Linked DNA regions of Homo sapiens. The protein of the gene in region 4 purifies or fractionates together with the protein of the main gene of each other region. This does not show direct contact. Each region holds a gene or a part of one and is shown on either strand. Other genes may lie near its edges.

Evidence for each region.
Region 1: the proteins of COG5 (region 4) and NIN purify together in Homo sapiens (affinity purification with mass spectrometry; 2 studies listed by BioGRID and IntAct, with this or other methods). This does not show direct contact.
Region 2: the proteins of COG5 (region 4) and CCDC136 purify together in Homo sapiens (affinity purification with mass spectrometry; 2 studies listed by BioGRID and IntAct, with this or other methods). This does not show direct contact.
Region 3: the proteins of COG5 (region 4) and ATP7A purify together in Homo sapiens (affinity purification with mass spectrometry; 2 studies listed by BioGRID and IntAct, with this or other methods). This does not show direct contact.

Annotation. Positions count from the first base shown.
Region 1 is NC_000014.9:50,821,158-50,828,184, forward strand, and holds part of NIN (ninein), read right to left. Parts: intron 2,353-7,027; exon of another isoform or gene 2,025-2,352; intron 921-2,024; 5' UTR 900-920; coding exon 717-899; exon of another isoform or gene 640-716; intron 1-639. UniProt on the Homo sapiens protein: Centrosomal protein required in the positioning and anchorage of the microtubule minus-end in epithelial cells. May also act as a centrosome maturation factor.
Region 2 is NC_000007.14:128,801,964-128,808,990, reverse strand, and holds part of CCDC136 (coiled-coil domain-containing protein 136), read right to left. Parts: intron 4,342-7,027; coding exon 4,230-4,341; intron 3,633-4,229; coding exon 3,467-3,632; intron 3,231-3,466; coding exon 3,090-3,230; intron 2,755-3,089; coding exon 2,596-2,754; intron 2,304-2,595; coding exon 2,133-2,303; intron 1,632-2,132; coding exon 1,446-1,631; intron 456-1,445; exon of another isoform or gene 227-455; intron 1-226. UniProt on the Homo sapiens protein: May play a role in acrosome formation in spermatogenesis and in fertilization.
Region 3 is NC_000023.11:77,913,685-77,920,711, reverse strand, and holds part of ATP7A (copper-transporting ATPase 1), read right to left. Parts: intron 1-7,027. UniProt on the Homo sapiens protein: ATP-driven copper (Cu(+)) ion pump that plays an important role in intracellular copper ion homeostasis.
Region 4 is NC_000007.14:107,280,916-107,287,942, forward strand, and holds part of COG5 (conserved oligomeric Golgi complex subunit 5), read right to left. Parts: intron 2,818-7,027; coding exon 2,656-2,817; intron 485-2,655; coding exon 385-484; intron 1-384.

The DNA.
Region 1 (7,027 bases), on a different chromosome or scaffold from region 4:
ATAATAAAAGCTATTAATTATAATGAGGAGAATTGAAGGCAATCTCAGGTCATGGCAGATCAAATATCCACCATTGGCAAGAGGAAAAAAAGACCCTCTCTCACTTCTTACTCACATCTGTGACTTGATCTATGGTAATAACATGACTATTTGTCATCAAACACAGAGGTTAACATTGGCGTGCACACACACATCCCTGCTGGAAGCAAGCCGTGCTGGGTTTTAAATGAACCTGCACTGTATTTATTTACCCTGCTGTCTTATTTCCTGGGTAGAAAGTTTAATTAATACTTCACCCAGAAATAATCCACACAAGAAATAGCTTCACTGGGAGTAAAAGTCATAACAATAGCTTTCTTACTGCATTTTCTTTCTCTTCAATGGAAATCTCACCCTCCTCCTTTCTGTCCCAGTGATGAATGTGGAGTCAATAAAATAAACCACAAAGAACAAGAAAAAAGTTGGAAAACATCCTTTCATTGCCTCTTTATCTAAGATGCTCACTGTACACCATAATTCCAGAGCACAAATTAAAGCAGGCTCTTGTCACCCTAGCAAACTGGACTGTGATGTCACACCCATTACATTCTTCTTTTTATCATGTAACAGCCAGGATGCTAGAAACAAGTTGCAACATGTGTGGTCCGCCCCACCCCCAGCACCCCGGCAGAAACCGCACCCCACTTCCCATAGCCACGTTCTTCCCCAGACCTTACCCTGCCCAAGAGGTTGTCCTGAAGTAATGTCTGCTGCAGCACTGGGGCCACCTCCTCCAAGCTCAACATGTGGCAAAGGTCGGTGAGTTCCTCCTGCCCCAGGGACCCTGTGCCCGTCGTGTCAAAACTGTCAAACAGCTCCTTGAGTCGGGCCTCATGCTGGTCCTGCTCCACCTCATCCATCCCATAGCCCACAGTGCTCACCTGTGTGTAAGACAGAGACAAGGACAGGTTGTGGCAGCCTCTCCAGTCCTACCGTGGTCACCACCTGGCACATTCCCGTTCTCTGTACCCCACCAGTCTCTAGGGAATGCTCGGGAACACCCAGTTTCTGATGCACCCCACAGCAAGACCCCCAGTCTCTGTAGGACCAGCCCTGGCCAGTGACACTCCTGCATGCACTCACATCAGGGGCATATACATAAGCTCAGATCACACTGGGAGCAAAATTACCAGAATGAGAGGGTCACGTACAGTAGAAGACACCCTCCTCTCTTGCCTGGTTCTCAGGCGGACAGCCAGACTGCCAAACTCAAGGCTGAAGGTGGTTCTCTCCCAGCTCTTCTAGCCCAGGATTTTAAGAAGGTGAAAAGCCACTTTGACAGCAAGACTATTCAAGTGAACTAATTGTTAGCGCCAGCAGACTGCATGGTCAGAGCTTCCATGCTAGCTGGCAAGCTTTAGACAACCTGCCCCGATGGTGCAATCGGTCAGCGTGGCCAAGCTGATTCGTTCTACTTCATTCAGCTTAGATGGCCCCCATCATAGCTAGACTGGAGGGCTGCAGCAAGAGGCACTAAATGAACACGACGTCTGCTACAAAACCACCTCCCTGTTTTACATGAAACTAAATGCCTTTTACACGAGTTCCTCAAAAAGCAACTCAATTAACTTCACTGGTGCAATTACATGAGGTGTGACGGGAAGAATATTCCCAGAAGCTTGCTTTAGTCCCAGCGAGTTTTAGGTAATGCTTAGTTGCCTAGAGAAAGGGGAAGACACTATTTCAACCTTTCAGACAGTGAGGTTTAAAGGAGCCACTGACTGGTTTATATGAATCATACAGCATCTCAGGGAACCTCCACTCACTAAAGCATCTCATCTCTTTATGCCTGGTTAACCTGTGTTCCGTCTCTCTCACCTACCCATACTCCAGGCTTTCCATTTTGCCACTGTCCTTAGGATCAGTAAAAACTTGGAGACGTCAATAACTGAGTCATTTTTGTTAAAAATATACATCATAAAATTCCAGGTAGCTCGTATTTTACTAATGAAATCTGTGGTTTTTTTTTTTTCCTTGCATGACAGTTCATTTTTAACGTGCTGGATTTTCCGATGAAAGCCTGAAACCTGCACATCTGAAGATGCCTTCGCCATGATGCAATGGATGCCAAACACGACATACACCCTTGGGACGGTGACCTCAGCCATCTGCAACAAGGCTCTCAGAACCAGTCCTTTGACTATAAAAAAAGCAGCAGCTTTCACTAACCAAGCATCTTTAATCCAAGCCAAATTACAGAACTCTCTAACTTAGAGGTGATCGTCCATACGGCAGATCATTACAACATGAAAAACGTAAGCTAAGATGTTGAACACAGCCAGAACTGAAAATAAAAGAGCTTTCTAAAACAAATCAATGTTGCTCTAGGTTGTGTTTGCTTTCTTTCCATAGACAGCTGTTCAAAACATGACAAGCTACAACAGGGCCACGATCTTGCCAGGGGTTTCAGCAGAACTGGGTGGACACAGAAGATAAATGTGAACAGCTCTGCCATACAGCTCAGTTTTTACTGGGGCCACTCATTAAAGTAAAGCAACATGGCACAATTTTGGTCCAGGTTCCTGGTCTTGGACAGGTCTCTTCTCCTAATTATCAGTTTTTCTGTTACTAAGGTGCTGCAGGCTCTGGCTGTCTTCCCAGGATTGGTCTGTTGGGTTAACTAATCACTATGTAAATGTTTTCAAAATAAGTTGAGAGTGTTATATAAACATCAAAGCCTCAGAAAAGAAACACCAAGTTGTTATGCAAAGCCACAGGAGTTAAGAATTTAGACAAGGCCAACACTTCGCTAACAAGATTCACTTAGAGTCCACCAGTTAATTGTCAACTAAGATCTGCTGAGAATCCCCAAGGTGCTCCAGGATTTTCAGTGTTGCGGTAGCTCTTAGTCTCACTCTGAGTTTTACAGTCCCCTGGGCTGTTATCTGACCGACCTCATAAAAGCAAGACTCTTCTTTTGCTTGATTTTGCATATATGTTTAAAAACTCAAAAGCGAAAGAATTCTAACACTTCCCTTTTTAAAAATTATTTTTAAGGGGCGGGGATTTGTCCATCTTAAACCAATGAAAGAGAGGAATAAAACACTGATGTACTGAGAAGCCCTGATCTTATCCACGGTGTCGAATTTGATATACTATCATGCCCCACTCTTTGGGAGGTCATTGGATTTTCACTAAATCAAACCTCTTTCATTTTATGGCAGCTTTCTTTTCTTTATCTCTTTATTTCATCTCCTTCCTTCTCAAAACACTGTGCTTGACTGAAGGGGAGACAAGCACCACCCCTGTGGAACAAATGCTCACGCTGAAACATCCAGGAGATGTTACGCATGGTGACAAGTTGTCAGTGCTCATCTGGCACAGAAGGCATTTTTACTGGTTGATATTATTTCCCAAATGTTCATCAGTAATTTCATGTGCAAGAATTTTTTTCTCCCCACTTGGCAGAAAGTTCTTTAATGGTAAGATCCACGCTCCTATTTCTTTTATATCTTCCCCCAAATGCATACTACAGTCAGTCTGTTCTTCAAGCCAGGGATTTGGTAAATATCATGGATTGACTTCCTGTATGGATCACTCCTTGAGAGGAAACGTACCCTAAATGAGGTCTACAGAAATGGGCATATGAAAATTTTGGAATGCCCATCTCATCCACCTACACACCTCCACTTCCCCCATCCCACCCTTTCTCAAAGGCATTTTCAGCCTCCTAAGCAAGAAGTAGAAAGCCAACACCAACTGCCAATCTGTAACATGCAGCGCTGTCTGAAGTTTAATTCAATAGGCTAGTAATTAAGTAAATGGATTCACAAACTTCGACTGCATTGTCTTGCTATGGGATGAAACTTTGGAGGAGAATCTATACTAAAACCTTTCTCAAGTCCCCTCGATTACAGCATGAGAATAACAATATCCATCTGGAAGGTTTGTTCTGAGAGTTAAATGTGGCAAGCAAGCGAGAGTGGCTAATTCCAGAGAAAGCTGATACAAGAGGGAATTTAAGATAACCAAAAGAATACCTGCAGCTACAAAGGAGTGGTAAACTGAAGAGGAGGTAACAAGTGAATTATCTACAGATCTACCTCCAAAGAAGCAAAGCAGGAGATGTGAAATGCTATAGAACAGACTGAGAATGGGCAGGGAGTGTACTATGTATATAAACATCATTATATAACTAAATGATAATGGCAGCAGGTAATGTTCAGAGCTTCCTCTATCTTTAAAAGCAGGTTATTGATAAATTTAATGTCAAATAAAAGCAGAAAGCTGCACTGTAACTGGGAATTACTTCTGAACATTTACTATGAGTCTGGCCTAAACTAAGTACTTTATGTATATCATCTCATTTAATCCTCCCAAATCTTAGAAGTGGATCTTCTCATTTTCCCACGCAAGATGTAGAAATTGGGGCTTGGCAAAATTAAGCCACTGTCCAAGGAGACAGCATTAATCTCCTTGAACAAAATGGGGGTGGAGCCAAGATTTGCACTCTAGTGTGACACTGAATTATATTATCCCTCAATCCTACACATGCACACAGAACACATGAATGAGACCTCTGAAATGATGCCATTGGCAAACCACTTATCTCCACCTTTATGTGTTAGCCAGTTGAACAGTACTAAGCAGTAGAAATCCCCACACAACACTCCATGGCCACAAACTTTTCCAAATTGGAATTGAGAAGCAGAGTTCCTTCCTTCCTACCTCCCTTGATCCATTTATTGAATAATTATAGCCTACAAGGCACCAGGGATATACAGATAGAATACACATTCCCTTTTTTTTCTAAAGCAGCTTTGGGATTTAGGGCATGAAAGAAAGAAATTCTTATATAAAAATGATCATGAAGTGTCCCATGTCTTCAATAATGGGCATTGCCCAGGAATTGGTAATTCGTAAATGACTTCCCCTGAATAAACACTTAAGTATGTATAATCTGTGCAATCCAGTGCTTTTCAGGGTCAGATCCTAACTGGTACCCACCAGAGGCAGGAGTCTTACTCAGAGATTAAGAAAGTTACATTTTGAGCGAGAAATTCTACTTCAAATTGCAAAGAAGAGCTCCAGTGTTACGAAGCCTGCCATAATAAACCTGGGCCTCTCCTCACCATCTACCTTTCCAGTCAAATTGTCAGAAGGCTTTATGACTCTTTCGGAATGAAAGAACCAGTATGGGCAATATTTTGGAGTTCTAACTGGGGATGGTTAAATAAGAAGCAGATGCACAGAACCATTAATCAAAACATTTACCACTCAATAACCACCCATAATGACAATTATTCTGAGCATTTTCCTTCCAAATAACTCAAAATAAGGCTGCCAAAATGCTGCCGACTCTGACAGTGGTGTTCATTACCCCAGCTGATGAAATCACAGTGCCAAATAGGACTGCAAACTAAATAGGTGGAGGTGTGGCTAGAATCATGAGTGGACATGTGGATTTATGAACTTTTCAGTGTTCAACCAAGGTACAGAAAGGAGCTTGTAACAATGACACCCCAGCTAAAGGGGACGTCTGTTCTGGGCCAGAGGGAGTGAAAAAGGGACAAAGTCTGGCGAGTGAAAAGGGGACAAAGTCTGGCAAGTGAAAACCAAGTAATAAATATGCACAATGCTAGAGCCCCTAGCCCAGGCCTTTTATTTCGCATCCAGATGGTTCAGCAGCTGAAGAGCTCTGCGGAATGTCTGCATGCCCCTCTCGGCTCAGCTGCTTTCCTTGAGAGGGCATCATAATAGATGCTTTTGGACCTGTGTGCAGACATAGCTGTTGGGGGTCCACAGACTAGGCAGTGACCACCAGTGACTCATTTACTTACTCTACAGCTGACGTGATGAACACCGACAAACCCCACTTGGGCAAAGCTCTCCATTTATGCCTTTAGCTTTCACCATTTGGCAAGTCGGAGCCTAATAACGCCAATGATCAAATTAAAGTGCTCTTTTTCTTCTTTCTTTTCTGCAAATACTTTAATTGGCTGCACAGATTTTCAGGCTCACCATATTGGACTACTTTCAGTATAAAAGGAAAGAGTGACAAGGATAAATTCAAGTTTAGTAAAAGCTCAATAGAAAAAGCAGTTGCAGCCATTTACGAGTTTATATAGGAGAATACTTCCGCCAAAAACCAGTGCTGCTTAGCAGCAAACTGATTACTGTCAGAATGCCTCCTCTCTGCTCAGTGTCTCACTTCTAGCTGGATACCAAAAGCACAACAATATCACTGTGAATGAAATCATGATACAAAAATATAACACGAAAGCTTAAATGCACAGGAAGAAAGTCACATTAAATACATTTGAAAAAATGGCTGGGAGCGGGGGCTCATGCCTGTAATCATAGCACTTTGGGAGGCTGAGGCAGGTGGATCACAAGGTCAGGAGATCGGGGCCATCCTGGCTAACACGTTGAAACCCTGTCTCTACTAAAAATACAAAAAAAAAAAAAAAAATAGCTAGGTGTGGTGGCGCACACCTGTAATCCCAGCTACTCGGGAGGCTGAGGCAGAAGTGTTGCTTGAACCTGGGAGGCAGAGGTTGCAGTGTGCCGAGATCATGCCATTGCACTCCAGCCCAGGAGAGAGCGAGAGACTCCGTATCAAAAAAAAAAAAAAAAAGAAAGAAAAAGAAAAATAACAACCTTTGTCAACTACACTATAATATTTAACTAAGGGAATCCTATCAGCGTTTATTCGAAAATGTAAGCAACCTTTATTATTTTACTATCCTGAAGGATGTAATAAACCCATGCTTTTGTTCAACCTAATAACTGGTAGATTACCCAATCAAGTAGTTAACTCAGGTTAGCTACAGGAAAAAAAAAACAAAAAACAAAAAACACAACAACAAAAAAACGCCATTAGCCTGGCACAATGTGCATTCAGTAACCTGTAATCAACTACTAAGTAAATTACAGAAGCAGAAAACAGAGCTGCATGTTTGTTACAAAAAAAAAAAAAAAGGAGAAAGCTTATAACAACTTCCACTTCTTAAGCCATATTGACTCACATTAATTTAGGATGCCTGAG
Region 2 (7,027 bases), about 22 Mb from region 4:
CTTTCCTAATTCTCTCTTTAAATCTTTAGAAAGTATGCGCTATTGGTAAATTTGGGTTGAGAAGACTAAATCATCCCATTTCCAAAAACCCAGATCTTCTAATATCAGACAGATCTCAATGCTGTTTTACGGCTAGAGAAAAAGCAGGTGCTGTCTGCCAGCATGCTTCTCCTTTCCCATCATTTTTCCCATTAGGGGAAGAGGTGACGAGCAAGTCACAGATCACCTGGGCTCCTAAATTGAGTAGCAGTGGAAAAAGGAGGAAACGTGAGCCTGGATATAGAAAGGCAAAGAGACTGCTGAGGTGGCCCAAATAACCTTCCCAGTCCTCCGTCTCCTGAAGGCCTTTCCCCAGGGACAGGAACTACTGAGTTTTCTGGCAGAATGTGACCAACTCCACCATCGTTAGAGACTCTTGGGCCTCTTCTCCAACATGCTTCAACACCTTTCCATTTCCCATCAGTAATCAGGAGCTGAAAGTGCTCAACAGGATAAATGATAACGGCTTGCATTTTATACACTATGGAAAAGAAAAAAAATGAATAAGGCCTTATTTATCACTACCAGGATTTACTGCTAAAAGGAAGTGAGTTAAGAGTAGTATTCTCTTCCATTTAAAGAGGGCACAATTCAACCTTCCACAATTTAATTACTGGCAGGGCATGGCGGCTCATGCCTGTAATCCCAGCACCTTGGGAGGCCGAGGCAGGTGGATCACCTGAGGTCAGGAGTTCGAGACCAGCCTGACCAACATGGCGAAACCCGGTCTCAACTAAAAATACAAAAATTAGCCAGGCACAATGGCATGTGCCTGTAGTCCCAGCTACTTGGGAGGCTGAGATAGGAGAATTGCTTGAACCCAGGAGGCGGAGGCTGCAGTGAGCTGAGATCGTGTCACTGCACACTCCAGCCTGGGCGACAGAGTGAGACTCCATTTCATAAAAAAAGAATTTAACTACTTCAAAGTCACAGAATAAATCCTAGAAGAGCCTAGGTCCTTCTCTTGCCCAATCAGCACTCTGGGCACAAGACCGTACCCCTTTATAAGACCATTTGCAATCTGACCCAGAAAACTGGCCCCTTTCTCTAGTTCCAACAATAATATTTGTGTAATGGGCCCATGTATATGTTCCCCTCCAAGAATGACTAGATATCACTACAGTTCTAATACCATTGTATAAATGTCTACATACATGGAATCATGTGTAAAACTTTCAGGGGTTCAGACTGGGATCCAAAGGTATTGATCCTACTAAGCTGTGGCTCTGGCTCAAAGTCAAGGTCAGGGCAAACAATTTTGAAGTTAGCAGCATGTGGCCCTGCCTCTGCTTCCTGCCTAGGAAGGCCATCAAGCCCTTGGGTTGGGTGCCTTCACTTTTTGCCTCTGTACCTCTTCTCTCTGGAGCAAGTGCCCAGGAGCTGTCACCTCTCTGAACGACAATTACCTTATTAGCACACTTTCCTTTGTCCTCCGGAATGGGGTGGGAGGCCTTGAGCTCTTTCAGCTCCAGCTGGCAGAGCAGGAGGTCCTGCTCCAGCTGGTCATACATGTGCTTCTGCCGCTCCAGCTCGTCCTTGCTGGCCTGGTACAGCTGCTTCATCTCCTGAAGCTGAGCGTGCGTCTCTGTGTCCTGGGCAGGGGAGGCAGGCCTGGCCATCATCCCAGGCACTCCTGCTGCTGGACTCTCTCCTCCCAGGCGGGGACTAAGGGGACCCATCTTCCCTTGTCCTTCTCAGCCCCAATTTCATCCCAGCCAGGGATAGATACCCAAGATGGACCCGTCCCTGACAGGCTTGAAACACAGACCTTCCCAGTGCAGCCTTTCCAGTTAAATAAATAAATAAATAAATATAAAAATAATTTAAAAAGAAACACAGACCTTCTGGGGCTTCCTTTTTTGGGAGGTGGGGAGGCAAAGGGACTTCCTTTTTATATGCTGCTTTTCTGATTTAAAATCAAAGGAAGCTGAGAGCCTTGTGACTCCCCGAGGTCACCTTTCTCCTAAGCACCTCTTTGGCCCCCTCACTGCCAGCTCCTCCACACTCCTACCATTCCCTCTCGTCCTCTGTGCTCTCACCCTCACACAAGATGATGCCTGGCTACATCCTCCCTCACCAGGAGCTTCTTTTACCTTCTCATTGCTCTCTTTGAAGGAGGCCACCGTATCCCTGAGGTGCTGCAGCTCTGCCTCATGGCACTGCAGCTCCTCCTGCAGCTGCTGCTGCCGTTCCAGCAGCTTTTCCTTCTCACATGTGACGTTCTGGTGCTGGAGGTGCAGCTTCTGCAGCCGGCACAGTAACTCCTATGGTAGAGGGGGCTTTGGGCAGTGCCTTTGGGCTCCTTAACCCACTCACTCTTCTGTGTGAGTCACTTGAAGACACCAACAGTCTAAGATTTGCTTCTTCCTGCCCTTCACTTCCTAATGTCCTCATATCTAATGTAGTACTCGAGCAGGGCTGGAGTTCTTTACCTGTGGTGCTGCCTATGTGGTTGCTGGAATTATTTTTAACTCACTACTCTTATCCACCTTCCCCAAAACCTCAGAAGGATGCCCTTAGCACCTAAGTTGTCCCCTCACCTCTGGTTGCTGTTACCTTCTCACTCTGGTTTTCTACAAGTGTGGATTTCATGACTTTGAGCTGCCGGAGCTCAGTCTGAAGTTGCAGCTGCATCTTCAAGAGCTCGTTCTGCTCATCCTGGCTAGTATCATATTTTTTCTGCAGGGTACAGAGTCTGGACTTCAGCTCCTCATTCTGTGGTAGGGAGGATGTGAGTAGAACAGTTACTCTCAAGAAACAGCAGGTCTTTCTACGGATCAGTTGGGTTCCTTTTCAGATGCAGACATCTTGAGGAGCTCCCACAGGTCTAGGGTTTGGTTTCTTCTGTGAGATGGACACTCAGTAATGACCACCATTTCTAGAATGCAGTGCTATATGACTTCTACAGTTGGTTTCCAGCAGACTGTGCCCAGTTGCAGGGCAAGAGTCAGCAGAGCACAGCCATACTCACTGTGCCCACCCCGGTTGAAGCAGCCCCTCCATGAGGCCCTTCTGCCCCCACCCCAGATGCCTCCCCGGGCAGTGTTTACCTGGGTGACACTGTGGGAGGTCTGAAACCGAAGCACCTCATTCTGAGCACACTTGAGCTCCCTCTGCAGCCGCCTCTGCTCCTCCTCACTGACCTGGCGATGATGCTGTAGCTCTTCCAACTCACAACACAATTCCTGACACTATGTGGGAAATGGAACAGGGAGGCTTGTTTACTACAGATACCACATATGCTCCAAGAACAAGCTTGGGGAAAGCATGGCGCTCTTTGACTGGAAGATTTACATCAGGCAAGTGAGACCCCAGAGTACTATCTCCCTCCACAGTGGATGCCTATGGAGATGTTTCTACCACAGGCTGGGAGAAGGTGAAAGAAAGACAAGAAATGTGCCTGCCTTCCCCACCCTCTGTGCCCTACCTTGTTCTTCATGCCATGCATCTGCTCTTCAGCATCCCGTAGCTGCTGCCGTAACAACTGCATTTCAGGATCAGGCTCTAAGAAATCCATTTCTGAAGTCTGAGACTCTGCTGACGTCATACTCAGTGTTTGGGACTGCAGCCATCTCTCTGTTGCTCTCTGTGTCCTGCAATTCAGAACCGCAGAGCTATGCTTGAAGGGAGTTCTGCCTGGCATCACCAGCCATGCAGGCTTTGTCCTGATACCTTCATTTTAGGCCAAAGATAGTAAGGGGCCTTCTATTGTGACTCACCGCTCAGATAAACATGCTTAAAAGACTACAGAAAGTCTCCAGCCCCTCAATCTGCAAAGGTGTGTTTGGCTCTGGGAGACCCTTAGAGTGCCAGTCCAGTTAGTTTTGAGGCTAGGCCTAGTCAAGCCCACTCCAATCTGGAAGCATTGTGCCTGCCATTAGACTGAAACAAGTCTATGCAGACAATAAAAGAATCTCTTCTGATCCACTTTAGGGCAGAGCAAACCAGAACCCAGTGCCTAGAGCAGAAGTAAACTTCAGAACTCACTCCCTCTAGTCTTGAGATAATTGGGTCGGATCCCCATGTCTGCTTGTAGGTGGTATCTGTATCCTTTGGAAACCATGGAAAGGACTGGGTCTCCAGGAGCAAAGGAACGCTCACTGCCCTGGCATCTGCCTTCAGGGAAAGCCCAAGGTAAGGCAGAGTCCTGTGGAACCCCATGACCTCTCACTCTCCAGAGACAGCTGTACCTCTCACTCTCCAGATCTGCAAGCTGCCCCGTGAGGCTGCTGTTGCTCTCCTGCAGGGCCCGGTATTCCTCATTCAGGAAATGGTAGCGTTCCCGCAGCTCCTGCAGTTCTTCTGCAGAGGACAGGCAGAGAGAGATGAGACCGGGAGGAAAGGAAAGCACTGATGACCAGCCCCCAGTTTTCCTGTCTTGAAACCTGAGAGCAGAAGGTTAAAGAGCTTCTCTTTTTCTAAAGACAGAAAAAAGGTAGAGGCTTAGAAGACAGGGCCCAGGAAATTCCACAGTGCAGTGAGTCTTTCTCCTCTTCCCAATAGCTGTCCTTCTTCTCATCTGCCCTGAAGATTTACCCTGTGTGCTCATCTTCAAAGCCTCAACCGAAGCAGACTCTTGAACTTTTAGCAATTTTTGAAAGTTTAATTAACTTTCAAATTTTTACTGTATGTAAAAACTTTCAAAAGTTTACTGTATGTAAAATTTCCATTCAACTGTTTATGATTACCTTCCAATTATGCTTTTAGTACAAAAAGCTGAGAGATGTGAACTGTCAGATGTGACTGCCAGTACCTGCCTTTCAGGCATTCTGAGTTTCCTTTTATGTTCTTTATTCCCACACCAAATACATTGGTCTGGATGTGGTAAAGAATTCTTGCCAGGTGTAGTGGCTCAAGCCTGTAATCCCAACACTTTGGGAGGCCGAGGTGGGCAGATCACTTGAGGTCAGGAGTTTGAGACCAGCCTGGCCAATATGGCAAAACCCCTGTCTCTACTAAAAATACAAAAAGTAACCAGGCGTGGCGGTGCATGCCTGTAGTCCCAGCTACTCAGGAGGTTGAAGTAGGAGAATTGCTTAAACCCTGGAGGCAGAGGTTACAGTGAGCCAAGACTGTGCCACTGCACTCCAGCCTGGGTGACAGAGTGAGACTCTGTCTCAAAAAAAAAAAAAAAAAGGAATTCTTTCTAATGGCCTTTTATCTGCTGACAGGCCCATCCTAACCAGACTCACATATCATCCTCAAGCATTAGAAGAGATCCGGTTGAAATACTCCAGCACATGTCTCTAAGCACCAGTCACCTATACCTATACTTTTTCCTTTTTGGTTTTGTTTTGTTTTGAGATAGTCTTACTCTGCCATCCAGACCAGAGTGCAGTGGCACAGTCATGGCTCACTGCATCCTTGACCTCCCTGGACTCAGGTGATCCTCCCACCTCGGCCTCCCAAGTACCTGTGACTACAGGCACACACCACCAAGCCTGGCTAATTTTTGAATTTTTTTGTAAAGATGGGGTTCCGCCACATTGCCCAGGCTGGTTTCAAATTCCTGGGCTCAAGTGATCCACCTGCCTCGGCCTCCCAAAGTGGTGGGAGTACAGGCATGAGTCACCATGCCCACTTTTAAGGCTGTGATGATACAAACACCTGTATCTGTTTTGTTGCTTCATGACTAAGAATTATGTTGGCCGGGTGCAGTGGTTTACACCTGTGATCCCAACATTTTGGAAGGCCAAGGTAGAAGGATCATTAGAGCCCAGGAGTTCGAGACCAGCCTGGGTAACAGAGCAAGACTCTGTGTCCACTAGCAAAAAATTGAAAAAGAATTATGTCTCTTAGAACATTAATTCTACTGATATTTAAAGAACACTAACTTGCTCTAATTAGAACACAAGACCTATCTTACCTGCTGGAAGATTCAACACCCTAAAAGTAACTTCTAATGTTTCCTCTTAATTCTAATCAGAATTCCTTAGAATACTGCAGATTACCATATAAGGGAGGAAGGAAACTAATCTTTAATGAAAACTAACCATGCGCTAAGCATTAGACTTGATAGTTTCAGCCTCAGATTTGGTAAGTGTGCAAGTGATTTCAACATGCTTCACATTTCATTTAATTCCCAAAATAGCTCTGTAAGGTTTTTTTCTTCTTTAAATAAACTTTGAATTTTAGAATAGTTTTAGATTTACAAAAAAGTTGCAAAGGTAGTACGGAGTTTCCTGGGAGGGTTCTCACCCAATTTCCCTAATTGTCAACATCTTACATTACCATGATATACCTGTCATGACTAAGGAATCAAATATTGATACATTACTATTAACTAAACTCCATAGTTTACTTGGATTTCTCTACATTTTCCCTAAGGTCCTTTTCCTGTTTCAGGATCCCATCTAGCTATAAGGTTTTATTAACCAATTTTGATTTCATATCCTGGATATAGAAACAGGCTCAGAGAAAGACCATAACCAGACCTCCTACGTTCATCCTGCTAATTAGTGGAGCTGAGATACTGAACTCAGGTCTGTTTGACTCCAGCCCAAGCCTTCCCACTGTGCCAACCTTCTTCTCCCAGCACCATTTAATCTAAAGGCTCTTCTGAGAGGCTTGATACAGCTGGAAAAACTTGCAGTTCTTTGATTCCTTGTTGATTGCCTCTGCTTGACCTGGCCAAATATAGGACCTCCATTATACTCAGATTATAAATCTAGCCTCAGAATAAAGGCAAACTCTCTGATGTCATGAATCCTAGCAACTAGCTGGGAGACTCACTGTCTGAAAGCAGGGCTCTAGGCTTTTGGGTACCTCATGTATCACTCAGAATAACTTTTCTTCTCTAGCTGTCTTTTGTTCCGATTTGTTGCCCCCCAAAGCTTCTATTTTGAGGAGAGCTAATGGAACCTAAGAATTAGCATCCCTGCACCTGGAAGCAGGGCCAGAGGCCCCCTATAAAGCATTCCAGGCAAAGCACCATGATGCCAGGGCAGCAGGAAGAGTTTCCCAAGGTGACAGGTCCCTCTTTGCCCAT
Region 3 (7,027 bases), on a different chromosome or scaffold from region 4:
GGTGGATTGGATAAAGAAAATGTGGTACATATACACCATGGAATACTATGCAGCCATTAAAAAAAGACCAAAATCATGTCCTTTGCAGCAACATGGAATCAGCTGGAGGCCATTATCCTAAGCAAACTAACGCAGACCAGAAAACCAAATACCACACGTTCTCACTTATAAGTGGTAGCTAAACAATGGGTACTCAGCCGGGCGCGGTGGCTCACGCCTGTAATCCCAGCACTTTGGGAGGCCGAGGTGGGCGGATCACGAGGTCAGGAGATCAAGACCATCCTGGCTAACATGTTGAAACCCAGTCTCTACTAAAAATACAAAAAAAATTAGCCAGGCGTGGTGGCGGGCACCTGTAGTCCCAGCTACTCGGGAGGCTGAGACAGGAGAATGGCATGAACCCGAGAGGCAGAGCTTGCAGTGAGCCGAGATCACACCACTGCACTCCAGCCTGGGCGACAGAGCGAGATTCCGTCTCAAAAAAAAAAAAAATGGGTACTCATAGACATAAAGATGGCAACAATAGATACTGCGGACTACTGGGTGGGGAGGGAGTGGGGCAAGGGTTGAAAAACTATTGTGCACTCTGCTCTGTACCTGATTGCCAGGATCAATTGTACCCCAACCTCAGCATCATGCAATATAGCCAGGTAACAAACCTGCAAATGTACCCTCTGAATCAAAAATAAATGTTGAAATTATTTTTCAAAAAGTACCTAGAATAGGTAAATTCATAGAGACAGAAAGTAGAATGAGGTTACCAGGGGGTGAGAGAAGGCAGAATGAGAAGCTATTATTTAATGGGTACAGAGTTTCAGTTTGGGATGATGAAAAAAATCTGGAAATGCATAACAGTGATGATTGTACAACACTGAGAATGCACTCAATGCCACTGACTTGTACCTTTAAAAATGGTTAAAATGGGGCCGGACACAGTGGCTCACGCCTGTAATCCCAGCACTTTGGGAGGCCAAGGCGGGTGGATCATTTGAGGTCAGGAGCTTGACACCAGCCTGGCCAACATGGTGAAACCCCGTCTCCACTAAAAATACAAAAATTAGCCAGGGGTGGCGTGTGCCTGTAATCTTAGCTACTCAGGGGGCTGAGGCAGGAGAATTGCTTGAGCCTGGGAGGCGGAGGCTGCAGTGAGCAGAGATCACACCATTGCACTGCATCCTGGGTGACAGAGTGAGACTTCGTCTCAAAAAAAAAGGTTAAAATAGTCAATATTATATTATGCATATTTTACCACAATTTTTTTTAACAGGCTGCTGCCCAAAAGGGAAGTGATTAGGAACTGAATGGAGATAGAGAGGGCAGGACCAACTTAAGAAATTTTAAGAACTAGACAACAAATTTGGTGACTGAATGTGGAGGTGAGGAAAAAGTAGCTCTTAGGTGTCTGGGTAGATAGGAGTGGCATTATAAGTTTCCTCTTATAGGTAAGGAAACAAAGTCCCCAGAGCACAAAGTAATTTGTCCAAAGTCACAGTTTGTTAATAGCAGAAAGAACTGAGATGCCAGACATCTGATTGGAATTCAGTATTCTTTCCACAACATAATATATCTGAAAAGAATATTATATTTGTGTAGTATTCTTTAATTTATGAAGTTTTTGCATACATTATTCCACTTGATACTGATAAAAACCTATGAATTAGACGAGGCAGTTATTATCATTTTCTTGATGAGTATACTTAAATAGAATAAGAAAATTTATGCAACACCTTGAAATCCTTAGACAAAGATGTAATTTTTATCTGTTGGATTAAAGGGGAGCCTTCAAGTGGGAGGCAAAGAGAGTCAAATGATAAACGTGTTGGGACTATCACGGCTGCTGGATGTAGTAGGTATTGAAGGGAATACAGGACTAGAAATAGAAGTGGTTTGGGTAGTTTCCAGGGCTGCCACATTGTGTAATTCCATGTCATAATTTTTACAGACTGTGGCTGCTGCCCACTAGATTTGTACAATGCAACAGCCATGGATGAAATAAGGTAGGAGTCTCAAACCTGCAAATCGGGATCTACTGGTAGATCTAGACACCTCACCTCCTATAAAGCTCCATGCTGGCTCCCCATAATGTCTTCTCTCTGCTACATGTCTCAGCTAAGATTCCCATTGGGAAAGGAAGAACAGCACAGCCAGCAACTACTTCTCAGGAACTATACTGTCAGTATCTGCCCTGATCTCATGACTCTGAGATTAAAAGAAGCTCCTCCTTATAACAAGGTTGGACATCACCATAATAAAAGATTGGGAGGAGACAAAGGTAGTCTGGTATGATCATTTCTACTTTTCTGGTGGAAAAAATTTCTTAAAAGCACCTGAATAAGCAGCTATGCATGATGGCTCATGCCTGTGTACTCCTAGCACTTTGGGGAGGCTGAGGCAGGAGAATCACTTGAACCCAGGAGTTCAAGACCAGCCTGGGCAACAAAGTAAGATCCCGTCTCTACAAAAAAAAAATTTTAAAAATTAGCCAGGCATGGTGGCACATGCCTGTGGTCCTATCTACTTGGAATGCTGAAGTAGGAGGATTGCTTGAGCCCAGGAGGTTGAGGCTGCAGTGAGCTGTGATCGTGCCACTGCACTCCAGCCTAGGCAATAAAGCCAGACCCTGTCTCAAAAAAAAAAAAAAAAAAGTGCCTGAACAATACTGTCAAATGTTCTTAGAGCATTATTATACTTACATTAAATCCAAAGGTAACAAGAAAAAATACAGGTCATAACAGGTATTCATTTGACAATCCATTCATGCTTTAAGCCATGTTAAGAGAGTACTAACACAGGTTACAAACAATACTTACTACATAAGCTTCTGACCAAGTTGAGTTTAGGTAAAATAGAAAACTGGGACACAAGTGGTCTAGCCAGATGCTTCAAATATAGAAGACAATCTAAAACTGACCAGATGCTTCAAATGTAGAACATAACCTAAGCCAACCATTGGTAGCTCTCAGATGCCCACGTCAAGTAGCTGCAGTTTAGTTTCTCTTTCTCATATTTAGACAAGGAAAACACACTACCATTAAACGCAACTAGAAACAAAAGACAGGCAAATGTATTGTTTTGCTTGAAGACATTTCTGATGACATTCTACCAACTATCACAGAATGTATTTATTTCTCTTTCCTTTACTAACCTCCTTTTATTTCTCCCAACCTTTCCTTGGACTTCCTACTGGCACTTCATGTGTACATTGCTTAACTGATACAAGGGTTACTGACCCCAACCACTCTGTAAATATCAGTTTGTTGCCTATAGAGTTGTGTCACTGAGAAAACTTACTATAAAATTCTAAACTTAAACAAATTAGAGTAGAGATGAGATCAAACCAAGGCAGTATGACCCCAAAGCCCCAAACCCTCTCCAGAACAGTGTATCCAAAGGACTTTTAGACAGACTTAAATAGTTCTTCAAAGCATTCAAAAGATGGTCTGCATCTATCACTTGCAGTGCTCCTCCCCAACATAAAATCTCTACTACAATCAAGCAAGTCCCTTCACTGATTGCCATATAGTCCATGCTCTTATCATTTATTTCTATGACTTTGTTTAGAACTGGTCCCCTCACCTAGAATGTTTTCTTGCACATATTTAAGTTCTATTACTTCACTAGTCTGTAAACTCCACAGAAACAGGACCATATCTGCTCTGTTCACTATCATACCACCAGTGAACATGGTGGCTACTCAATAAATCACTGTTGAGTAAGTAAATGAACTGAAGTCCCACCTCCTTCATGAAAAATCATGTCAAATACTCCTAGCCACTTTCTTTTTAAATTCCGAATACCCTGGAATCAGTTTCATAGTTTAGTAGTACCTAATTTCTCTCTGCTTGGTATTAAACTTCTTTCTCTTGCTAGACATTGGAACATATGCCTTATGCTTCTTTGTATAGCTCACAGGAAACACTGAATATGCAATAAGCACACAATAAAAATGTACTAATCAAAGTGCTGACATGCTTTGTAAAAATTCAATTTACACACAACTTTGTAAGAATGCAGCTATTTGCAGAGTAGGTTAGACATACATAAGGCCTTTTCCCTTGCTTACACTGTATCACAACTTATTCAGTACAAGTATGGTTCAGCATTTGACAATTAGGGAATGTGGAAAATCTCGATGGCCTAGAGTCTGTGGCTCACTAATTACAGAAGCAGATTGTTATGAGTTTTCTTGATAGGGAAATAGGATGAGCACATCACAGTGATTTGATTTGCCAGCTGTAATAATGAGCTTTAAGATGCCATGTTAGCATATGTAGGTGTACTATAGGCTACTGGGGGACCCTCTCAATCTGAGTTTTCCATTTTCTTTCTCTTTTTTTTTCTTTTTTTTTTTTTTTTTGAGACAGGGTCTCACTCTGTCACCCAGGCTGGACTGCAGTGGCATGATCTCAGCTCATTGCAGCCTCAACCTCCCAGGCTCAAGCAATTCCCCCACTTTAGCCTCCCCAGTAGCTGGGACTATAGGCGCATGCCACCACACCTGGCTATTTTTTGTAATTTTTGTAGAGATGGGGTTTCACCTTGTTGCCCAGGCTGGTCTGGAACTCCTGAATTCAAGCAATCTACCCACCTCAGCCTCCCAAAGTGCTGAGATTACAGGCGTGAGCCACCGCACCGGCCAATTTTCTATGGTGTAAGTTAGAAATTAAGTATTGTGCCGGGCGTGGTGGCAGGGCCGGGAGCGGTAGCTCAAACCTGTAATCCCAGCACTTTGGGAGGCTGAAGCGGACAGATCACCTGAGGCCAGGAGTTTGAGACCAGGCTGGCCAACATGGCGAAACCCCATCTCTACTAAAAATAAATAAATTAGCCGGGTGTGGTGGCACACGCCTGTAACCCCATCTACTCGGGGGGCTGAGGCATGAGAATCGCTTGAACCCTGGAGGCAGAGGTTGCAGTGAGCCGAGATCGTGCCATTGCAACTCCAGCCTGGGCTACGGAGCAAGACCCTGTCTCCAAAAAAAATTTTTTTAAAGAATTTAAATATTGCTTGCAAGTATTGATTGATTAGTATATTGATCCTGTAGTCTACTAAATTTATAGTACAGCAAAACTGTAATTTATAATTTTATTATATAGGATGTTAAAATTACTTTTACAGTAAATAATATATTAAAATATTAAAGGTAACTACATTTTATTGTATGTTTACTATCTGCCAGACACCGTACATGTATTAGATCATTAACAATCCTGTGAGACAGGTACTGTTATTGTCCCCATTTTAGAAATTTGAAGGAACTGAGGCACAGAGGAGTATGAAATCTGCGCAGGGTCATACAAGTAGTAAGCAGAGGGGCTGGGATCCCACCTAGACAGTCTAGCACCTGGACTGAGCCAGACAAGACAGGCTTTTTTTTTTTTTCCGGACAAGACAGGGTCTCACTCTGTCACTCTCTCATCCAGGGTGGAGTGCAGTGGTGTGATCTCAGCTCACTGCAGCCTCAACCTTCCAGGCTCAAGCGATCCTTCCACCTCAGCCTCCTGAGTAGCTGGGACTACAGGCACGTGCCAACACACTCAGCTAATTTTTGTATTTTTTGTAGAGACAGGGTTTCCCTATGTTGCCCAGGCTGGTCTCGAACGCCTGGGCTCAAGCAATCCGCCTGCCACGGCCTCCCAAAGTGCTGGGATTACAGGCGTGAGCAACTGTGCCCCACCTAGCCTCCACTCTTAATCCTATATTATACTGTCTCTCCAAAACAATATATCGCAATACAATGGTGAAGTTAAGATACCTTGAAGCATCAAGAGAATAATATCTAATACTCCAGAAAATGTTCAAAGATATTACTGTCAAGATGAAAAAACAAACATAGACCATTTCACTCCAGCCTAGGTGACAGAGCCAGACTCCATCTCAAAAATAAATAAACAAAAATAAACATTAGGTGTTTTAGTATATCTAAATATACATTTAGTATATCTTTTCTTTCTAGGAGAATCTGAGAATACAATTAAGACACCATTTTTAACACTAGGTGTTTTAAGGCCTGGCACAGTGGCTCATGCCTGTAATCCCAGCACTTTGGGAGGCTGAGGAGGGTGGATCACTTGAGGTCAGTCAGGAGTTCGATACCAGCCTGACCAACATGGCAAAACCCCTTCTCTACCAAAAATACAAAAACTAACCAAGTGTGGTGGCGCGCACCTGTAATCCCCGCTACTTGGGAGACTGAAGCAAGAGAATCACTAGAACCCAGGAGGCGGAGGTTGCAGTGAGCCGAGATAGCACCACTGCACAGCACGATGCTGTCTCTACAAAAAGTTTAAAAATTAGCTGGGAGTGGTGGCACACACCTATAGTCCCAGCTACTCAGGAGGCTGAGGTAGGAGGATCGCTTGAGCCTGGGAGATCGAGACTGCAGTGAGTTATGATGGCGCCACTGCACTCCAGCCTGGGTGACAGAGCAAGACCCCATCTCTTAAAAATAATATTATTTAAAAAATAATAATTAATTAATAAATAAGTAGCTAGGCATGGTGGCATGCGCCTGTGGTTCCAGCTACTTGAGAGGCCAGAGGATCATTTGAGCCCAGGAGATTAAGGCTGCAGTGAGCTATGATTGTGCCATGGCACCCTAGCCTGGGCCACAGAGCGAGGCCCTGCCTCTAGAAATAAATACATAGATAAATAATAACAATAACATCTTTTAAAATAAAAATAAAATAAAATAAGGTTAATGGCCAGTCTAAAACAATATCCCTACAATGTGAAATAACCCATTTATTTCAACTGGTAAATTGTTAAAAATGCACTCCTGATTATAGGTCTGAAAAACTGGACTTCTACACTAGAGATTAATAGTAAAAATAAGTAAAACTCTTTTTTCATCCTTGAGACATAGCTGTATAATTTTAAATGTGAACAGAAAATATGGTACAAAGTACACATAACTGACTCAAAATGGGGTATTTTACCCTCATTTCCTTCAAGGAAAGAGGTATCTGTGAAAACTGATGTAGTCTACCAATATCTCATACATTTGGGCACAAAAAGATTAGGAAA
Region 4 (7,027 bases):
ATGCATGAATGATATATGGAGTTAGTGGTCACACAAAAGGGAAAACTTGATTGATCATGCATAATTATAATTTATGTAAATTACTAAAATATTTAAATATTTAAAAATATATAATTAGGCCATTAATTGGCACATGCGTTAAAAAAGGAAACCTTATAAAACTTGCTTGTCTTCTGAAAGTGTATTGACAATGTGTAGGAGGGCCATTTTTTTGTTAACAAATTTTTTTTCTGGTTTAAATTCATCAGGAAGTTACAAACTTTCACTACAGTAAAAATGGAAGTAAGTAAATAGTCAATTCAATATTTATGATTAGTCAAGTATTATATAGTTAGTAATTTTAAATAAAATCATTAAAGTTTACAGATAAAGGAAACCACTTACAAGCTGCTCTGATTTTACACTGTATAACTGGATGGTCTTTGCCACATTTTTTGACACAGCTAATGTGAGGTTTGTATCAACAGCAGCAACATTTAGTTCACTGGAGAAAATGAAAACAGTTTTTAAATATTAGCAACATCATTCATCAACAAAGTAAAGAGCAAGATAAAAACTCAAACCCAATAAGCAATGTGGTTATTCTTTTTATAGATTTCACTGCTTCCAAGAACTGGTTGCATTGTTTCATTTTACCCCCTAATTTCAGCACTTGGAAAAAGTACCTGGAGATGGCTTCCTTAATGACCAGTTTCTCATTAACAAAAGCATGTCATATGTGGGTTCAGTCTGTGATTAAAGGAGTAAATTGTGTACAGATTTTTAAAGTAGCACTCTTGCTAATACTGATAAAGTGCAAGCAGAGGCATTGCATATCACAGACATCTGCAAGGAAATGACAGCTCTTGAATGGAAATGATGACCTTAAAGGGACATAGGCTAAAAATATAAATTACACATGATATATAAAGATACTCAGCTTCTGTAGAAATTATGCCAATTCATGCTAGTTTCAATAGAGTAGCTTTTTAAATAATATAAAAGCATAACAGGACTATAATTACAAATTTTTAAAATTCGGATTCTTAAAGTATATTTTTGTCATGCTTCAACTTTAACATTGGATTAATTGGGGTATTTGATCTGACTGCCAAAAAAAAAAAAAAAAGTATTTTACGAAGACCATGGAAAGAACACTAGAAATTAAAAATAATATAGAAACCCATATACAGATGGAAAGCAAGAAAATTATTGTCCCTAAAGTAGTAGAGTAAATCTTACCAGATTCTCTTTTTAAAGAAGTTGAAAGTTTGAAACAATACTAGAGCATACTATGTGTAACAAAAATGCACTTTCATACAGTATTGAGACATAATTTTGTTAATGTTCACTTTTAAATTTTATTAAACACTAGCATAAGCATGATTCTTCCAGTTGTAGATTATATTTGATTATAGCATTGTCAAGTTGCACAGAGGAATGGGAGAGATTCCTCTTTAACATTTACATAAACAGGTCAAAGAGATCAAGTTACTAAGACCTATAGTCAGAAGGAAAGTCAAGGCAATTGTGGAGAGATTTAGGACCAAGATGCTGGGCAATCTAGACAATTTGTAGGTACGTTTGCAGCAAAAGATATGCTTATGTATATTATTATACATGTGGCTTTTTATTTTTATTTTTTGAGACAGGGTTTCGCTCTGTCAGCCAGGCTGGAGTGCAGTGGCGTGATGTCGGCTCACTGCAGCCTTCGCCTCCCGGATTCAAGCGATTCTGATGCCTCAGCCTCCCGAGTAGCTGGGGTTACAAGCGTGCACCACCAGGCCCAGCTAATTTTTGTATTTTTAGTAGAGATGGCGTTTCACCAGGATGGTCTGGAACTCCTGACCTCAGGTGATCCACCCACCTCCGCCTCCCAAAGTGCTGGGATTACAGGCGTGAGCCACCATGCCTGGCCACCTGTGGCTTTTTAGTCTTACTCTTCCACGCCTCAGAATCACCATCTTCAAATCTTTAAAAGAATTTAGACCTCAGTCTCATACTATTTTTTATTCCTTAAAACGTCCATCTCAAATGTACAGATCTACTATTATGACAACTTGTTAGTCATGACAGAAACTGAGATAATTTCAACTGCAAATTGGTCTGGATAACTTTTAAATAAGTGTCTAAAGCCAACAGTATATAATTACATTGTCTGCAGGCATTCAGGTGGCACCTCTGCTAGGATATCTTCCCTTTTTAGTCTTAAAAGCTGTCACATTCACTTAAAAAGCTTAAAATAGCGAACACAAGCTAATCAAAGTTATATTCCTATTTCTGCCATGAAGCACGTTCTGGAGTTTAGGATAAAAAAAAGTTAACCTGTATGTTTTAGTTTCTCAATTTATAAAATCGTTTATTATATTTGATTTCTTGTGTAACGTAAGAAATTTACTATGATACAAAGAGCTAGGTTTACTTTGCATCCTTGGCAAGATATAGAATAATTATAATAGACTGTTTTTAGACTATATTTAAGGTATTTAAATTATTTATTAATTGGAATCTCAAGTACTTACTATGTGTGCACTCATTTACTATAAAATTCTTAATTTAATTGTGGGCCTAATTACTTGAATAATTTGAAAATAAATTAAAAAGGTACTGCTATCATATATCACTAACAAATATGGCAGTCATCTTATGGCAAGCCACTATATAAAAAATACATACCTTGCTATAGTTTTAATAATACCATCAAGTTCATCAGAGGAAGGAGGATTACGACCACCCGGGGGAAAAACCAAGTTGATAGGATCGAAGAGTCGAGATAAGGATTTTGATAGATAAGCAGCCTCATAGGGTTGTAGTGAGTCTTTCAAAGCCTTTTCTGGACTGTGGAAACAAAATTTTTTAAAAACTAACTTAAATTGCACAGAGCTAAATGCTATTGTATCAGGCTGTAAATACCTTTTTAAAAAATGCACCTCCCATAAAAATGTAACTCTATATTAAGAAAAAGAAAATAATTTGTTTCACAACGTACATATTTACCAATATATTTCATAATTAAACATTCAGGACCATAGTAACCTTTTTTTTTTTGAGACGTAGTCTCACTCTGTTGTCCTGGCTGGAGTGCAACGGCGCAATCTTGGCTCACTGCAACCTCTACCTCCTGGGTTCAAGCGATTCTCCTGCCTCAGCCTCCCAAGTAGCTGGGATTACAGCTGCCCGCCACCATGCCCAGCTAATTGTTGTATTTTTAGTAGAGACAGGGTTTTGCCATGTTGGCCAGGATGGTCTCAAACTCCTGACTCCAGTGATCCACCCGCTTCGGCCTCACAAAGTGCTGGGATTACACGTGTGAGCAACCGTGCCCGGCCTATATTAACATTTTAATCTCTACGTAAGTCCCCACTATAAATGCACAATAATATGCACCAATACCTACTGTATTATCTGTTTCCTTAAACTAAAAGAATAACAGTAAAATCCTATTAATGCTAATGGGGGCTATGCCTTTACTTGTAAATCATACCTATAGAGTTATCGAAGCATATGGAAGAAAGACCAGCCTGCAGAGACCTGCTCCATTAGCTTGGCCCTTTCCATCCATAGCTGCCTCCCCAGTAAAGCTCACTGACTGAGAGGGAAGTGTACAGACTTAGGTTTTTACATTTTCCATTTTTGTGTTACTAACAAGAGTGAGACAAAATAAAAAGTATTTATGGAAGTCCTAAAATCACGTAAATACTCCCAAGTGGAGTTCTATGCTACTTTGTTTTATAATATTCTTCACAACATCAAATGTAACCTGAGAAACATTTCTTTCCTGCTTGCACTTCCCATATCTTTAATAATTCATGCTGATTTTCATTTAGCAGTCAAACTATTTGATCTTACATTTTTCTTTCGACAATTACTATCAAATGTCTATAACCATTATTTTCATGTTTCCTTACTCCTATAATTAATTGTCTTCTCACATCATCCCTGTTTACAATCCTTCCACCAGCTTTTGCATTGTCTTTTTTCTTTTATAAACAACAAATTTTCCTTCATCTAAAAAGTTAACCTTTAAAACATCTAACCTGCTCCTTCATGTATATGAAACTTGGCTTTCTCTTTTTCTCACCCTTCTGGTCCACTGATATGACCTAGAGATCAGAATGCTCTTGGCTCCAACATCATAATTCCATAGTTATCTCTTAATGTTTTCTCATTCAGTAAGTATTTCACTCAACACATATTTACTGAGAATACTACGCACCAGGCACTTTGTAAAGTGCTGGGAAGATAGAGATTAAGAGTGCTTTACAGTCTTGTGAAGAAATTGGCAGGTAAAATGCTAATTATAATAATTTCTGTAATAGATGAAGATACCAAGACCATGATGGAAGCATGAAAGAACTTAGTATCTAAATGTGTCTGAAGCAATCCTCTGTTGAAGTCCGAGCCATCTATTTAAATGTCACTATTTTTACTCATGACATCTACTGACCTCAGAAGCCTCTTCCCACTTCTGCAGAAATTTTGGCACTGAATTATAAGAACTAACACTTTCCCGTTCTCCAAATCTACCGTTAAAGATCCTTGGTAACTACAATGTCAAACATCTTTTCTAAAATATGTCCTATATTAAAAGTCTACATTTATAATAACCTTTTTTGGCTTTACTAGGGGGCTTCCAAATTTGAGTCATCACTTTGAACTGCTCCACCTCTAAGATCTTCAAGCTTAAAGGAAACTGTCTACATGCCCCACCTTCTATCTCTACTTTTCCTTCCACAAATATTAAGTCACTACAATATTTGCCAAGTATTTCCTAGGTGCAGAAATATAGTAGAGAACTTGCTTTAAAAAAAAAATTCCCGGCCGGACCTGGTGGCATGGTGGCATGTGCCTGTAATCCCAGCTACTCAGGAGACTGAGAGAGAATTGCTTGAACCCAGGAGGAAAGGGTGCAGTGAGCCAAGATCATGCCACTGCACTCCAGCCTGGGCGACACAGCAAGACTCTGTCAAGAAAAAAAAAAAAAAATTCCCTGTCTTCTTAAAGCTTACACAGTAACAGGAGAGATATACACAAAAATAAAAATTTAAAATAAGTTAAATATGGAATATGATAATGATAAGTGCTAAGAGAAAAATAAAGCAAGGAAGATAGAGAATAATGCTTAAGTCTTTTTTCCTTTTCCATCCGATTTTAGATAGGATGAGGCAAAGGAAGGCTTACTGAGGGGCCCTGAAGGAAAAGAGGGAGCTAATTGTGTAGATTTTCAGGGAAATTGCTTTCCATGAGGAAAGAACAGCAAGTACAAAGGCCCTGAGGAGAGACCATACCTGGCTGTGTTGGCCAGAGGTGCAGATCAAGTAACAGGAGGGTAGTACAAGATAATATCAGAGAAAACAGATGGACGTCATGTTAGGCTTTGCATATCTATAAGGGTGGTATATTTTACTCTAAAGAACTTGTTCTTTGACCTTATTGTAATTTATGCTACATGACCCCTTCTTGCTTCCAGCCTCCATCAGCCCACCATGTCTATAGTCATCCTTTTTCCATAGCCATCATTTCAAGGTGCTCTCATTAGCACCCTGATTTTTCCAATTCACCTTCCTTTCAAAGTTCTAAGAAAATGTTATTGAGATGTTCTCTGTATCTGCTGCTAAGCTGGCCAAGTACTTCAGAGAAAAAATGATTTCTACTGGACATTTATACAAACTTCTTTAAAATCAAGAGACCTGAAGGTCAAAGTAATAACCTAAAATTCTACTTGTGCAACTCTTCAATCTTTATAGATGACTTTTGTCTTGGTTTTACCCTAAGAGAAAACCACTGGCCGTGACCTTTCTCAACGTGGCACTTCTCTTGTTTTTTTCCCTCTTACAACTTCATCTATTCTCTGTGACTTTCTTATTATTTCAATGAAAGAGGTAACCTCACTCCTTTTTTTAAAATAAAAAATTCCCAGAATAATTTAATCTATCTCTTCTTATCCCATTCTCTTCTTACACAGATCTGATCGCTATACATGTATCACAGCATCACTCTATATATGTATAAATATTATGTGTCAGTTAAAAAAATAAAGGAAAAAGATATGTCAGCATAAAAAATATAAAGACATATCTCTAAGTAAAAAGGTTTTATTGGGGAATAACATACGAGAAGCAGGATTGCTATCTTGGACCTACAGACAGAACAGGGTGGCCTCTGGTATGTTTGGAAAACAAAAGAAAGGCTGGAGTTTATTGGGGGAAGAGGAGGTTATGCAAGTTGTTTTCAAAGACAGTTTACTGGCACTGGCAGCATCTTATATAAGAGCTGGTGAGTTCTGATTGGTGAGTGTCAGTAAATTGCAAAGTAGGACTTGCAATTTTAGTGTTATGGTTAGGCCCTTGCAGTTTGGATTGGGCTTGTGAGATAGTGTGTCAGGCAAATGTTCTTGTTTAAGTGGCTAGCTGTCCCTGTGTGACTTGTGTAGTAAGCTGCAGTTGAGAAAAATTTCTTGTGATAGTTCTTGTTATCAGGCAAATCATGTGTGACAGCTCTCCCTTCATAACCGTCCCCCAGCTCTATTTTGCCAGGCTTTGACACAAGTGACTCCATGTCGAATCTGACAACTTTCATATATATAATTTACATAGCATACCACCACTTGAATTCAATCACTGAAAGTATACAATTTGATGAATTTTGTATATTCAGAGATCTGTGCTATCATCACCACAGTCAATTTTAGAACATTTTATCACCTCAAAAAGAAATCTTGTATCTTTAACTACAACACTCCACCTTCCTCACTCCATCCCCAGGCCCAATCGATCACTAATCTACTTTGTGTTTCTATAGATTTTGCTATTCTGGATTTGCATATGAATGGGATAATATACTGTGTGTATCTGTGTATGTGTGTGTTTTACTGTCTTCTTTCACTTAGTATAATGTTTTCAAGGTTCATCCATGTTGCAGCATGTACAGTACTTCATTTCTTTTTATGGCTAATATTGTATATATTTTAATTGTAATATTTCATTGTATGAATATAGCACATTTTGTTTACCCATTTGTCTGTTGACAGACATTTGGTTGTTTCCAT